Linked DNA regions of Homo sapiens: regions 2 and 3 are each linked to region 1. Evidence: fine-mapped expression QTL. A gene starts in region 1. Each other region holds a variant in brackets. All regions are shown on one strand. Distances are from middle to middle.

The links. PIP is the estimated chance that this variant, and not a neighbour inherited with it, causes the effect.
Region 2: its variant is the best candidate, but not a certain one, in a credible set for the expression of ATP5MJ in whole blood (INTERVAL, PIP 0.58).
Region 3: its variant is the best candidate, but not a certain one, in a credible set for the expression of ATP5MJ in whole blood (INTERVAL, PIP 0.69).

Annotation. Positions count from the first base shown.
Region 1 is chr14:103,919,689-103,923,833 of GRCh38, forward strand. ATP5MJ (ATP synthase membrane subunit j) reads right to left here and starts at 1,841. Exons shown (of 4, transcript NM_004894.3): 1 at 1,782-1,841. RefSeq lists an enhancer at 1,496-2,171 and silencers at 1,806-1,978, 1,865-2,034.
Region 2 is chr14:103,941,477-103,945,754 of GRCh38, forward strand. All of the region lies in intron 1 of TDRD9 (tudor domain containing 9), which reads left to right. RD3L (RD3 like) reads right to left here and starts at 1,053. Exons shown (of 3, transcript NM_001257268.2): 1 at 616-1,053; 2 at 1-226. The coding sequence starts at 219. The variant A/G (reference allele first, on the strand shown) is at 2,492.
Region 3 is chr14:103,960,277-103,964,554 of GRCh38, forward strand. It overlaps TDRD9 (tudor domain containing 9), which reads left to right. Exons shown (of 36, transcript NM_153046.3): 3 at 2,803-2,900. Among named protein-coding and RNA genes, the nearest start is that of RD3L, 20 kb to the left of the region's middle. The variant C/G (reference allele first, on the strand shown) is at 1,963.

The DNA of each region.
Region 1 (4,145 bases):
AAAATTACCCTTAGTCCCCAGTGCAACAGGGGCCTGCTATTCAGTAGCTTGCAAATACCTTTCCCTTCCTTTCCCCTTGACTTCAGTTGCCATATTTGCCTGGACAAGTGACATGTTCCCAATACATAATAAAACGAGGGCCCCCCCTTTTTTTTTTTAGACAGAGTTTCAGTTGGTCATCAGGCTGGAGTGCAATGGTGCGATCGCGGCTCACTGCAACCTCCGCCTCCCGGGTGCAAGCGATTCTCCTGCCTCAGCCTCCCGAGTAGCTGGGACTACAAGAGGCCGCCACCACACCCAGCTAATTTTTGTATTTTTAGTAGAAACGGGGTTTCACCATGTTGGCCAGGATGGTCTCGGTCTCTTAACCTCGTGATCCGCCCGCCTCAGCCTCCCAAAGGGCTGGGATTACAGGCGTGAACCACCGCGTCCGGCCCCTACTTTTTTTTTTTTTTTGAGACAGTCTCGCTTTGTCACCCAGGCTGGAATGCAGTGACGCGATCTCGGCTCACTGCAACCTCCGCCTCCAGGGTTCAAGCGATTGTCCTGCCTCAGCCTCCTGAGTAGCTGGGAAGCTGGGACTACAGGCGCGTGCCACCACACTGGGCTAATTTTTTGTATTTTTGGTAAAGACGGGGTTTCACCGTGTTAGTCAGGATGGTCTCGATCTCTTGACCTCGTGATCCGCCCGCCTCGGCCTCCCAAAGTGCTGGGATTACAGGCGTGAGCCACCGCGCCCAGCTACATATTCCCAACACATAATAAAACGACAGCCCCTACTTTTTTTTTTTTTTTTTTTTTTAAGACGGAGTTTCACTCGGTCATCAGGCTGGAATGCAATGGCGCGATCTCGGCTCACTGCAACCTCCGCCTACCGAGTGCAAGCGATTCTCCTGCCTCAGCCTCCCGAGTAGCTGGGACTACAGGTGCCTGCCACCACACCCAGCTAATTTTTGTATTTTTAGTAGAGACGGCGTTTCACCATGTTGGTAAGGATGGTCTCGATCTCTTGACCTCGTGATCCGCCCGCCTCAGCCTCCCAAAGGGCTGGGATTACAGGCGTGAACCACCGCGCCCGGCCGGCCCCTTTCTTGAGTCCATTCTGCCCAGGCACATTTCCTAGCTGTGTGTGTCAGTTTTACAGCACCAGACCTTTTAAAAATCCATCTTATTCATAGGCCAAACGTGTGTCTACTGTATCCACTTAAGTCTGCAAAGTTTTGGCACATTACATTAAGGGCGAACTATTACCTGACACTGGAAATGGGAAATGTCTGACCCGCGAGTTCCATACAATTTCATTCAGCACCGTATGATCTCTTTTCAGCTTCCCTGTTGCCTCACCCAAGTTGTCATGTACAGCATAACGTGGAGGGCAGTGTGGCGCAAGGAAACTTGAGTTATAAAGGAGAGAAGGGACTGGATGTGGAGTCAGAGTTCTTGGCTTGGACTCTGGCTTCTCTAACTCTGCGTAGCCTCTGGGTTAGGCAGCTGAACCTCTCAAGGCCAAGGTACGCTCCCTGTCAAAACCGTGGGAGAATTCAGGTGCACTGAGCGCGTTAAGGCCAAGGAGGGAAACGCGGCGCAGGCCTAGGCGATGCTTCCCTCTGGCAACCGACCCTGGCCTACCTCCCTTCAGAGAAGGGAAAGCCGGGCAGAAAAGCAGGCGCGTGCCGGCGGAGGGGTGGAACCCCAAGATCAGCTGGGGCCAAGGCGGCTTCTCGCCCTCCCGCCCCCGCCGTCTCGCACCTCGGGAGCCAGGTCCAGGTCCCCGTACTCACCTTGGCGCAGGACAGACGGCTCAGAACGCACCACAAATCTGCAGCCAACTCGGAAAGGTCACCGAGCGCGCAGGCGCGCGCAGGGGATGCCGGGAAGGCGGAAGCAGCAGAGACGCCGCAAGGCCAGAGTGCCTCCCCAGCGGCGCCTCCGCACCACAGCGCCCCCGGCGGCCGCCTGGTGTCGCAGGCAAGAAGGGGCGGGGAGAGGGTGCGTTAGGGGTGTGCCCGCGTGTGTCACTGTGGGCTGGCTAATCCTCCACATCTTCCCACGACTGATGGGTTTCCTGGGACGCGGGACCTTCAACGCTGAAACTAGGAAAGTTCTAGACATACCGGGAGGGTTGGTTAACCTAAGAAAAGGGACCCTCTTTACTGTGACGTTAAAGACTAAGTCAAGTCTCCCATTTCAGTGGTGTGTCTTGTCCCTTTCTATTGTTAATTATTTAGCTCTGCATGTATAAAATATATATATTTGGAGACGGAGTCTCACTCTGTCGCCCACGCTGCAGTGCAGTGGCGCGATCTCGGCTCACTGCAACCTCCGCCTCCCGGGTTCAAGCGGTTCTCGTGCCTCAGCTTCCTGAATAGCTGGGATTACAGGCGCTGGTCACCAAGCCCAGCTAGTTTTTGTATTTTTAGCAAAGACGGGGTTTCACCATGTTGGCCAGGCTGGTCTTGAACTCCTGACCTCAGGTGATCCACCTGCCTCAGCCTCCCAAAGTGCTGGGATTACAGGCTTGAGCCACCGCGCCCGGCCTGCTCTGCATATTTTTATGTCTGTATTCTGTGCATATTCTTCTCAGCAGATAATATAAAACTTCCACAGGGGCTCCAGACACTGGGCTTAATAGTCTTAAAAATATATATATATATATATATTTTTTTTTTCAGAAATATTTTCCAGTAGAGAACTAGAAATCATAAAAGAAAAAAATTTAGCGAGCGGATCACCTGAGGTCAGGAGTTCAAGACCAGCCTGGCCGACATGGCGAAACCCCATCTCTACTAAAAATACAAAAATTAGCCGGGCTTGGTGGTGGGCGCCTGTAATCCCAACTGCTCAGGAAGCTGGGGCAGGAGAATCACTTGAACCCGGAGGGCAGGGGTTGCAGTGAGCCGAGATCTTTGCACTCCAGCCTGGGCGACAAGAGTGAAACGCCATCTCAAAAAAAAAAAAAAAAAAAAAAAAGCCAAATAAAAATTGGATGGAGGCTGGGCGCAGTGGCTCAGCACTTTGGGAGGCCTGTAATCTGTAATCTTAGCACTTTGGGAGGCCAAAGCAGGCAAACTGCTTGAGTTCAGGAGTTTGAGACCAGCCTGGCTAACATGGTGAAACCCCTTCTCTACTAAAAATACAAAAATTAGCTGGGTGTGGTGGTGGTGCGCACCTGTAATTCCAGGTACTTGGGAGGCTGAGGCAGGAGAATCGCTTGAACCCTGGAGGTGGAGGCTGCAGTGAGCTGAGATGGCGCCACTGTATTCCAGCTTGGGCGACAGAGCGAGACTCTGTCTCAAACAAACAAAACAAAAAATTGGATGGATTTGGCAGATTAGACAGTTAAAGAATAAACTGCAAGATCGAAGAAGCCATTCAGAAAATAAGAGGGATACAGCAGGAAAGATACCAATCATATGGGTAATTGGTATCTTAGAAGGAAATTAAAGAGGTGAGGCAGAAATATCTGAAGAGCTAATGGCTGAGAATTTTCCAAAAGTGATGAGAAAAAAATCATGCCAAAGATTCAAAAAGCCTTACAGAGGCCAGGCGCGGTGGCTTACGCCTGTAATCCCAGCACTTTAGGAGGCCAAGGCGGGCGGATCACCACACCATCCTGGCTAACACGGTGAAACCCCGTCTCTACCAAAAATACAAAAAAATTAGCTGGGTGTGGTGGTGGGTGCCTGTAGTCCCAGCTACTCCGGAGGCTGAGTGAGAGAATGGCGTGAGCCCGGGAGGCGGAGCTTGCAGTGAGCAGAGATGGCGCCACTGCACTCCAGCCAGGGAAACAGAGCAAGACTCCGTCTCAAAAACAAAAACAAAAAACAAAAAACAAACAAAAAGCCTTACAGAAACCAAGCAGGCAGATAAATAAAAATAAATCAATACCTTGAAATCTCACAATAAAGCCATAGAAAAGATAAAGATAAAATCTCAAAGAAAGTAACCACCAATCAAGAATTCTATACACAGGGAATTCTATACACAGGGAAATTGGCATTCAGAAAAGAAGGTAAAATAAAGACAGTTAAGGACAAACTAAGAGGAAATCGTGCTAGGCATGGTGGCTCATGCTTGTAATCCCAGCACTTTGGGAGGACTGCTTGAGCCCAGAATTTTGAGACCAGCCTGGCCAATGTATTAAG
Region 2 (4,278 bases), 22 kb after region 1:
AGTTGTGTGGGGATTCTGGTAGTTTCTGAGCCAGTTGTAATCCACACCTGTTTTTTTCACTTTTTGTTCATTTTCGATTTCTTGTATTAATCTCTCTCGCTCCTTTAGGTGCCATTTTAATTCCCGAAGCAGAGTCTTTGTCACTATGTCTGAGCCAGGATAGTGTGTGGGTTTGTAGGAATCGTTTTTGGGCCATTTCATCCAGCCAAAAAGTGGCATTTTTAGCCTATGGAAATATTTTCACTTGTTTATTTGCTCAAAATGTTATGTTCTTCTGAGCAAATATTTGTTTCTTTACAATAAATTTGCCCGAAAAGTGCACGATTTTTTTTCACATTTAGCTATGCAGGTCAAAATAAGATTAGAACATGGATTAACGTCTTAATTTTTAACTAGGTCAGTGGCAGAAACCAAGCTTTGAAAATGCTTTTATGTAGCTTAGCAGAAATTAGATATACAAAGTCAGAGATAACATATAGACTGAATGATATCCGAAAATAACACTAACACTTGCTGTGAAAAGTTCTTAAGAGACTTAAAATATTAATGTCGGGGCAAGTGCTGCCTACAGATACTTTTGATTTATGTTTTGGACAGAAAAGGTTTAAAGCTTACCTGTTAAGTTGATGGGCTGATGTGATGTTGCCAAAGAGTTGACTGAAGTTGGTGACGAAGCTGTGTTTCACTGGGACGTATCTTGCTCTCCTAGGTGTGTCCTCTGTAGAAGGAATGCGCCACCTTATTTACCCACCGAAACTGTATTTGAAATAAATAACTTTCTGTGTTAGGAATGAGGCTGTGATGTCTTCATTTGGAGAGAATGCTCATTAATTCACCTTGTAAGTAAGCTAGAAGAAATGACAAAAATAACTGACTATTTAATCTTCACAAGTTATATAATGGTCTGCCTTTTCAATGTAGCTCAGTCTATTTGAAAAAAATGCCAGCAGCTATAGATGCTGGTCCTAAATGCATTCCGACATGTCTTTGGTAGTGAAACGAAGAATGGTCGTCTAAAGCACCATAGATGCGCTCCGAGCTAGAGTGAAGACTGTCGCGTGATGTGATGCTTTGCTGTGCATAGCTGTAGGTCACAGTTTAGTGCTGTATTTTTATGCCTGTAGAGCTCTAAAAATAGCCACGTTGCTTTTATTCTTCAGCTTAACTTTCAGGCCATTTGGAAGCCGGGTCACTGTCCCCTCTAGTGAAAACAGGAAAAATAGATTAGACTTGACTATTTGCAAAACATACATTCTGAGAAAACTCATTGTAATTGAGTGAAATAGGTAAAGAATGCTGATGTGAATTATAATTGTGAAATATTTAGCAAATGTTACATTTTGTATTCATTTTGGTTTTTTCAAAATAGTTAAATTTGTATATTTAAGCAAGTTGAAATGCTAGGGGACATAATAAACAGCTAGATAACTTTAAAATATACTTTATAATCTCTGAAAATATGGTAATAAGGCAGTAATTGGTTGTCAGGGAAAAATAGAGGCATAAGAACATACAAAATTCTAAACAAAATCTTATAATTCATCGTAGAAAAATCATTTTCGTGTTTTTTTTTTGGAGCTGAGGATGAAAAACTTATATTTACTATTTAGGTGCATATTGGTTTGTAATGGTCATTATTGTGCTATTTCTTTTTTCTTTCTTTCTTTTTTTTGAGACAGAGTCACGTTGTGTCACCCAGGCTGTAGTGCAGTGGCATGATCACGGCTCACTGTAGCCTCGACCTCCTGGGCTCAAGTGATCCTCCCACCTCAGCCCCCTGAATAGCCAGGACCATAGGTGCATGCCACCACAGGTGCATGCTACGGCATGCCTGGCTAGTTTAAAAAAATATATACACACGCACATATGTACATACATATATGTTTTATATATGTACATATGTGTATGTATTTTATATATGTACATATATGTATATATACACATAAGTATATATACGCATATGTATATGTATTATATATGTATATATAAATATACACACATATATAATACACACATATATACACACACACATACATTTCTTTTTTTTTTTTTTTTGTAGAAATAAGGTCTCCCTGTGTTGCCCAGGCTGGTCCGTAAACTGGGCTCAAGTAATCCACCTGCCTCAGCCTCCCAAAGTGCTGGGATTACAGGCATGAGCCACTGCGCTGGCCTGTGCTAATTTCCTATGCAAGTGTTTGTCTTTTGCTAAAGAGTAGATAGTATAAAAGGTCTTTTACTCCCCAGTTCTCTGTGAAACGACTGCATAGTGGTTTTCCCTTTTATAGTATTTGTTTCTTCTGTTGCTTTTCCTTTCAAGTGAGCCATGAAGAGTAGACGTTGTTTACATCAGACTTGCATGTCATGCATGACCCAGAGTGACGTGTGTGGCCACCCTACAGCTCCTGTTGCTTAGATGTTAGAAAAAGCCAGATGTCAGGACTGATTATTGTCAACTGGAAGGTTTTCACATGACATTGCATATACTGTTAGG[A/G]GAAGGAAAGGAGTAAAGTTTATGATGACAGAAGTGTCCTACCAAATTTTATACTAAAATTACAGCGAATCTTGCCGCATACTCCTTTGAATAACCTCCTTGTTACTGCATAAATTTTTTTCCTCTGAAATGGTAACAAAAATATCAGAACATATTGGATATGGAACTTAAGCCAAATTTCTGTTCAAGGCCCTCTGCAGTCTCACATTATCCCTCCTTCAAGGCCCTCTACAGTCTTACGTTATCCCTCCTTACCTGGCTTGCTTTCTTGCTCGACCCTAGAGCACACCTTTTGTTTCAGCCAGGCCACGTTGCCCCCTGACGCTTGCCATGCTTACTTCTGATCCTTCAGCTTTGGTTCAACTGTTTTTTCTCTTCTGAAAAGCTGCTTCTTTGTGTTTTTCATGTATCCACATAGTAATTCTCTTTTTCATGGACCAGCTCAAATACCAACTGATTTTTTCCTTCAACCTGAGGGTCAATGTGAACATCTTCCTTGGCCCTTCTTTTCCTTTGAACTCTGATTTTATTTATCTTCACTGTTAAACTTATAGAAAGACTGGTTTGGTCTGTGTTTCTGTTCTCTCTCCACCCCGCCCCCCACCCTTTTTTTTTTGAGATGGAGTCTTGCTCTGTCGCCCAGGCTGGAGTGCAGTGGCGTGATCTTGGCTCACTGCAACCTCTGCCTCCTGAGTTCAAGTGATTCTTGTGCCTCAGCCTCCCTCGTAGCTGGGATTACAGGCGTGCACCACCACACTCAGCTAATTTTTGTATTTTTAGTAGAGATGGGGTTTTGCCATGTTGGCCAGCTGGTCTTGAACTCCTGACTTCAAGTGATCTGTTCGTCTTGGCCTCCCAAAGTGCTGGGATTACAGGCGTGAGCCACCGTGCCCGGCTTCTTTTCCCTTTTTCCTAATGCTTTCCAATTAGATCCTGCTGTGTCCTCTACTGTAATTGCTGGCTTTCAGTCACTTAACAGATATCTATTGACTGTCTGCCAGGGCCTGAATAGTTAGGGGCTGGGGTGTAGCAGTGAACAAGAAAGACCTAGTTCCTACTCCCAAGGAGCCAGCCTCCAAATGTGAAGACAAATATAAGTACACAAATCAGTAAGGTAATTATAGATGGTCATAATCTATTAATATACTTGGAACACTTCTCCCACTTAGAACTGGAGGTCAGAGAAGACCTTTTTGGGTAGGAGGTATCCTTTTAACAGAGATTTAGAGATCAATGAGCTAGCCACTGGAAGAGCTTCTTGAAGGCAATCTTCCTTCTCCACTTACTTGTTTGACACCTTTCTTGCCATTGAAACCATTACCAAAGACCTTTTCAGAACTTTTCTTACCACCTTAACTCACATTGAGTATACCTTCCTTTGAAGTTAATTGTGTAAACCAATTTTTCTAGTACTTAGTGTGTGCTACTTGCCTTACAGATTTTATTTTGTCCTGTCTCCTGAGATTATCAGATTGAAGTAGAGACCCAAATAATTCTCTGATTACAGTATTTCTTCTACTGCTGTGTAGATAGAGAACATAAATATTTGTAAGCAAAGGTAAGGAAGTATCTTGGATTGTATTTATCTTACATTATAATGAGTTGAAAAAATGAATTGTTTCTGATGAATTGCAAACTTCCTAGGATATTTTGTGTGGACGACATAAAGCTTAAGCTGTTAGGTCCTTTGCTTTTTGGTCATTGTCATAGTTTTCTAGTTTACACCTTGTTAGCTAAGTATTAAATTTTATAAGACTTAAAATGAAATAGGACCGTATCATGCATAA
Region 3 (4,278 bases), 41 kb after region 1:
TGCTGTTTAGAACCTCTAGGTGCTGAACTTTTTGGTTAGATTTCATATTTGGTTGATGGTGATATAGTGATATGTCTTAGTGAAGAGAACTAGCAATTTTTATGGCTTCCAGTTTTCCCCAGTTCATGTAAAACATTGTGTTGTTAATCATGTAGGATAAAGAGACAGCAAGAAAATAAGAATAGTCAATTTTAAGGTTGAGCTGGTCCTCATGCCGTTTTTGGATTTTTGCTTTGTTGTATGTAGTTTGTTGATTTGCCTTAAATTATCCGTGATGGATTTCCTTCTTATTCTGTTGCTGATGCAAAGGTGCGAGAGCCACACAGCTGGGAACATTTCTGCTGTTTGGTTTCCTGTCTGCCCTTTGGCAGTGTACGCGGAGGCAGGACTTGATTTGTGCTGGGTCTGCTTCAGCCAGTGACCTAAAAATGTCAGCTTGTGTTTTGCGTTACATGGAGAAGGGGCTATGGTATAGACAGTACCGTTAGGACTTCTGGCATTTTTTCTTGTAAAATTTCTGTCTTTAAGTAGCAGTCTTCAAAATGCATGTAATCAAGTAATGTAAGCCAATATTGTCTAAGTAACAGGGCTTGTTTAGCGGCATGTGAGCCAGGGCTTGAAGTCTTTTAGCAAAACGAACGTGGCTGCAGCCTTTTTCGTCTTTCTAAAAGAATCTTTGTCACCTTCTTTCCCCTTTGAGTAGCTCTTCCTCAGCTTCTTACTCCCACCCTGTTCCTCACTAGAATACTTGCCTCTCCCTTTGTCTGCATGCTGTGTCTGGGCTCAGGGCCTTCTTTCTCTCAGTCCAGTTCACAAGGGCCATGGGGATTCTCTTCCCCTTCTTTCATTATGTTCAAGAAGGCCTAGGTATATTAACTGGGAAAACAAGAAGGCATCAGTAATTACCATAGCACTGAGAAGAGGAATGGAAGGAAAGTGAGACGTGATAATGGAAAGAAAATCCCTGTTTTAGTAAACTTGGCAATCACTAGTTAGGCTGATTAGAAGATTAAAAAGCCATAGGTCAGGCGTGGTGGCTCATGCCTGTAATCTCAGCAATTTGAGAGGCCGAGATCAGGAGTTCAAGACCAGCCTGACCAACATGGTGAAACCCCATCTCTACTAAAAATACAAAAATTAGCCGGGTGTGGTGGTGGGCACCTGTAATCCCAGCTACTCAGGAGGCTGAGGGAGGAGAATCGCTTGAACCCAGGAGGCAGAGGTTGCAGTGAGCCGAGATCGCGCCACTGCACTCCAGCCTGGGGGACAGAGCAAGACTCTGTCCAGAAAAAGAAAAAAGAAAAAGAAAAAAGGAAAAAAAAAAAAGCCATATCGGCAGGACAGCTTTCCTGAGTTAGGGGTCACTAATATTTTAGGAAGAACATACTCACAAAGAAGCTATTTTTGCTTTGAGAAAGTATGACAGATCTGGTTCCTCTGTTTATATAATTGAGAACAGGGACCACGTAACTTTGATTCAAATGTGGGAAAATAGCCACATTTTAATTACATGTTATTAGACCAGTTAGGAAAATGGGAATATATGTAGGGAAAAGATGTAGGAAAACAAGAGAGAAGCCTGGTTGTGTGTTTTATTAGGAAAGGCCGAGGGTGACACAGCAGGAGATGCTGGTCAGAAACAAGGGGCTGATAGGAAGGGAAGGTGAGTCGTGGGGTAAGGGAATGAGTGCGGTGCTAAATTTGGCTAAGAGTTTATTTTGGAAGTAAAACTTATTTCCCAGCAAAAGTTTGTCTTCCGTGAGTTTTGATGATTTGCCAGTTTGTCAAGTGATGACCAGAGGTTTAGAATTTGTAGTGCAGCCAGAGAGCAGGGCATGTTTTTACAAGAGGGCAGAGAAGTGTGCCTGGTCAGAGCTCTGTGTCATGTATCCTGAGCAGAGGCAAGCTGCCTGCTTTCCTGATACCTGTATTTCATAAATTGTTTGATTTATTTATTGCTAT[C/G]ACTGATGTATTTTAGTAGCAGGGAATGCACACTTAAATTGATGCATTCTGTTGAAATTTCAAGGAAAAGTTTTCTCTTTAACTGTTTTGGTACCACTGAATCAGCAATGAGTGCGTGTTTTACAGGCCTGTTTTAGAAGGCAGTGCTGAGCTTGCAATATTGGTGGCTGTGATGGAGGGATAGAATGTTCTCAGTTTGCTTTTATACAAGATTAATAGTGGGCTGCTAAGGGAAGTTTCTTAAGAAATTAAACTTTTTATTTTAGATTCGGGGGTGCATGTTCAGGTTTGTTACAAGAGTATATTGGGTGATGCTGAGGTTTGGGCTTCCACTGATCCCATCACCTGTATAGTGAACACAGTACCCAGTAGGAAGTTTTTCAGCCCTTGCCCCTCCCTCCCTCTTCTTCTTGGAGTCCCTAGTGTCTGTTATTCCCATCTTTATGTTCGTGTGTACCCAAGGTTTAGCTCCCAGTTGTGAGAACATTTAATATTTGGTTTTCTGTTTCTGTGTTAATTTGCTTAGATGGCCTCCAGCTACATCCATGTTGCTTGCTGCAAAGGACATGATTTCATTCTTTTTTATGGCTGCATATTATTCCATGGTGTATATGTACCATGTTTTCTTTATCCAATCCACCATTGATGGATACCTATGTTCGTTCCATGTCTTTGGTATTGCCCTGATGGCAGTTTTAGCCTGTAGAAAATGTATTTTTGTATTTGAGTGTGTGTGTGTGTGTGTGTGTGTGTGTATGCTGTATCTATAGATTAGAACATTGAGTTATCTTTTTCCAGATAAGAAATGGCATTGTATTTGTTTGTTTTGCCTTAATCCAGGTCCAAGGCCATCTTTGGCTAAATTAAGCAGTGTGACATGCATCCCAGGGACAACTTATAAATATCCTGATTTGCCTATAAGTCGATACAAGGAAGAGGTAAAATTGTTTTGTTATACTGTAATTTTGCTGTTTGAATACATGTCTGAGGCCCAATACTTTTGGTTTCTAATTTGAAAGTTACCAGTTGCCAGGTGAACACTTCTGTGGTGTACAAGGTTCTGTGGTGGATAAGAGGAGGGTGTGCTCAGGCCAACCTGCAGATGATTTTGTGTAGTAACCATATCGATGGCTTTTCTTTTGATCTGTGCTTTAATTTCTTTAGTCTTCGCCTGAGTACATCTTCTAACATTTAGTTTATCTAGTCTTTCCTTCCTCAAAATATCTGCAAGTAAACACTTAGTCTTCCCCAGGAGAGCTTCTTGTTTAAATAAACTCACTGCTAAATGTTTTTATGAAGCAAATGACATACCCTAGCATTTCCACTGGGTTTTCTTTACAGCGTTGGCCCTTTCTCTGCCTGTTGATTAATGTAATCAATCATTGACATACCATTGTATTAACAATGCCAGGCAGATGTAACAGTAGGACGATTAAGTTCCTAATTACTTGCGTGTTATTAAGCATCGTTAAGAGTAAGCGTATCGGAACCTTTATTAACTGGAAGAAGGAGTTACAGATAAAACTAGAAATGTTTCAAATTTAATTTTTACTTTGCTTTAGAGTAAATCATGCAACTAAAAATTAGAGGCCAGTATTCAAATTAATTTGTATTTCCTGACCATATCAATTGTTAGAAGGATAAGAGCTTAAATAAGTTTAGAGTGGAGGTCGGGGAGTTCTGGAGGAGGAATTTGAGTGGAGTTTTAAAAATGCTGCATATAATCTGTAAGTGGAAAAGTGGAAGTTACTTGTTTCCAAATATGTCTGGAGGTGGGAGGATCACTTGAGGCCAGGAGTTCCAGACCAGCCTGGGCAACATAGCAAGACCTCATCTCTACAAAACACACCCCCCAAAATTAGTGGAATATGGTGGCACGTGCCTGTGGTCCTGGCTTGGGATGCTGAGGTGGCAGGATGGCTTGAGCTTAGGAGGTCAAAGCTGCAGTGAGCCATGATTGTGCCACTGCACTCCAGCCTGGGTGACAGAGCTAGAGCCTGTGTCTAAAAATAAATAAACAGATATTTAATAGATAAAAATATGTCTGAAGAATTTAAGATGACATTTTAAAACCACTTGAATGTAGTAACAGCTCTTTTTCTCATGTTCAGTAGAATTATTTGCAGATTCATTACAAAATGTTAATAGAAACTTGGGAAGAGTCATAGAAATCTAATTTTACATTTTCATTTTTACAGAAGCAGTTGAGACCCAGGAAGCTGGAGTTAACCTGGCCTGGTTTTTCCACAGCTATCACTAGTTACTATTTTTTTTGTTGTTGTTTTTGTTTTTTTGTTTGTTTGTTTTGAGATGGAG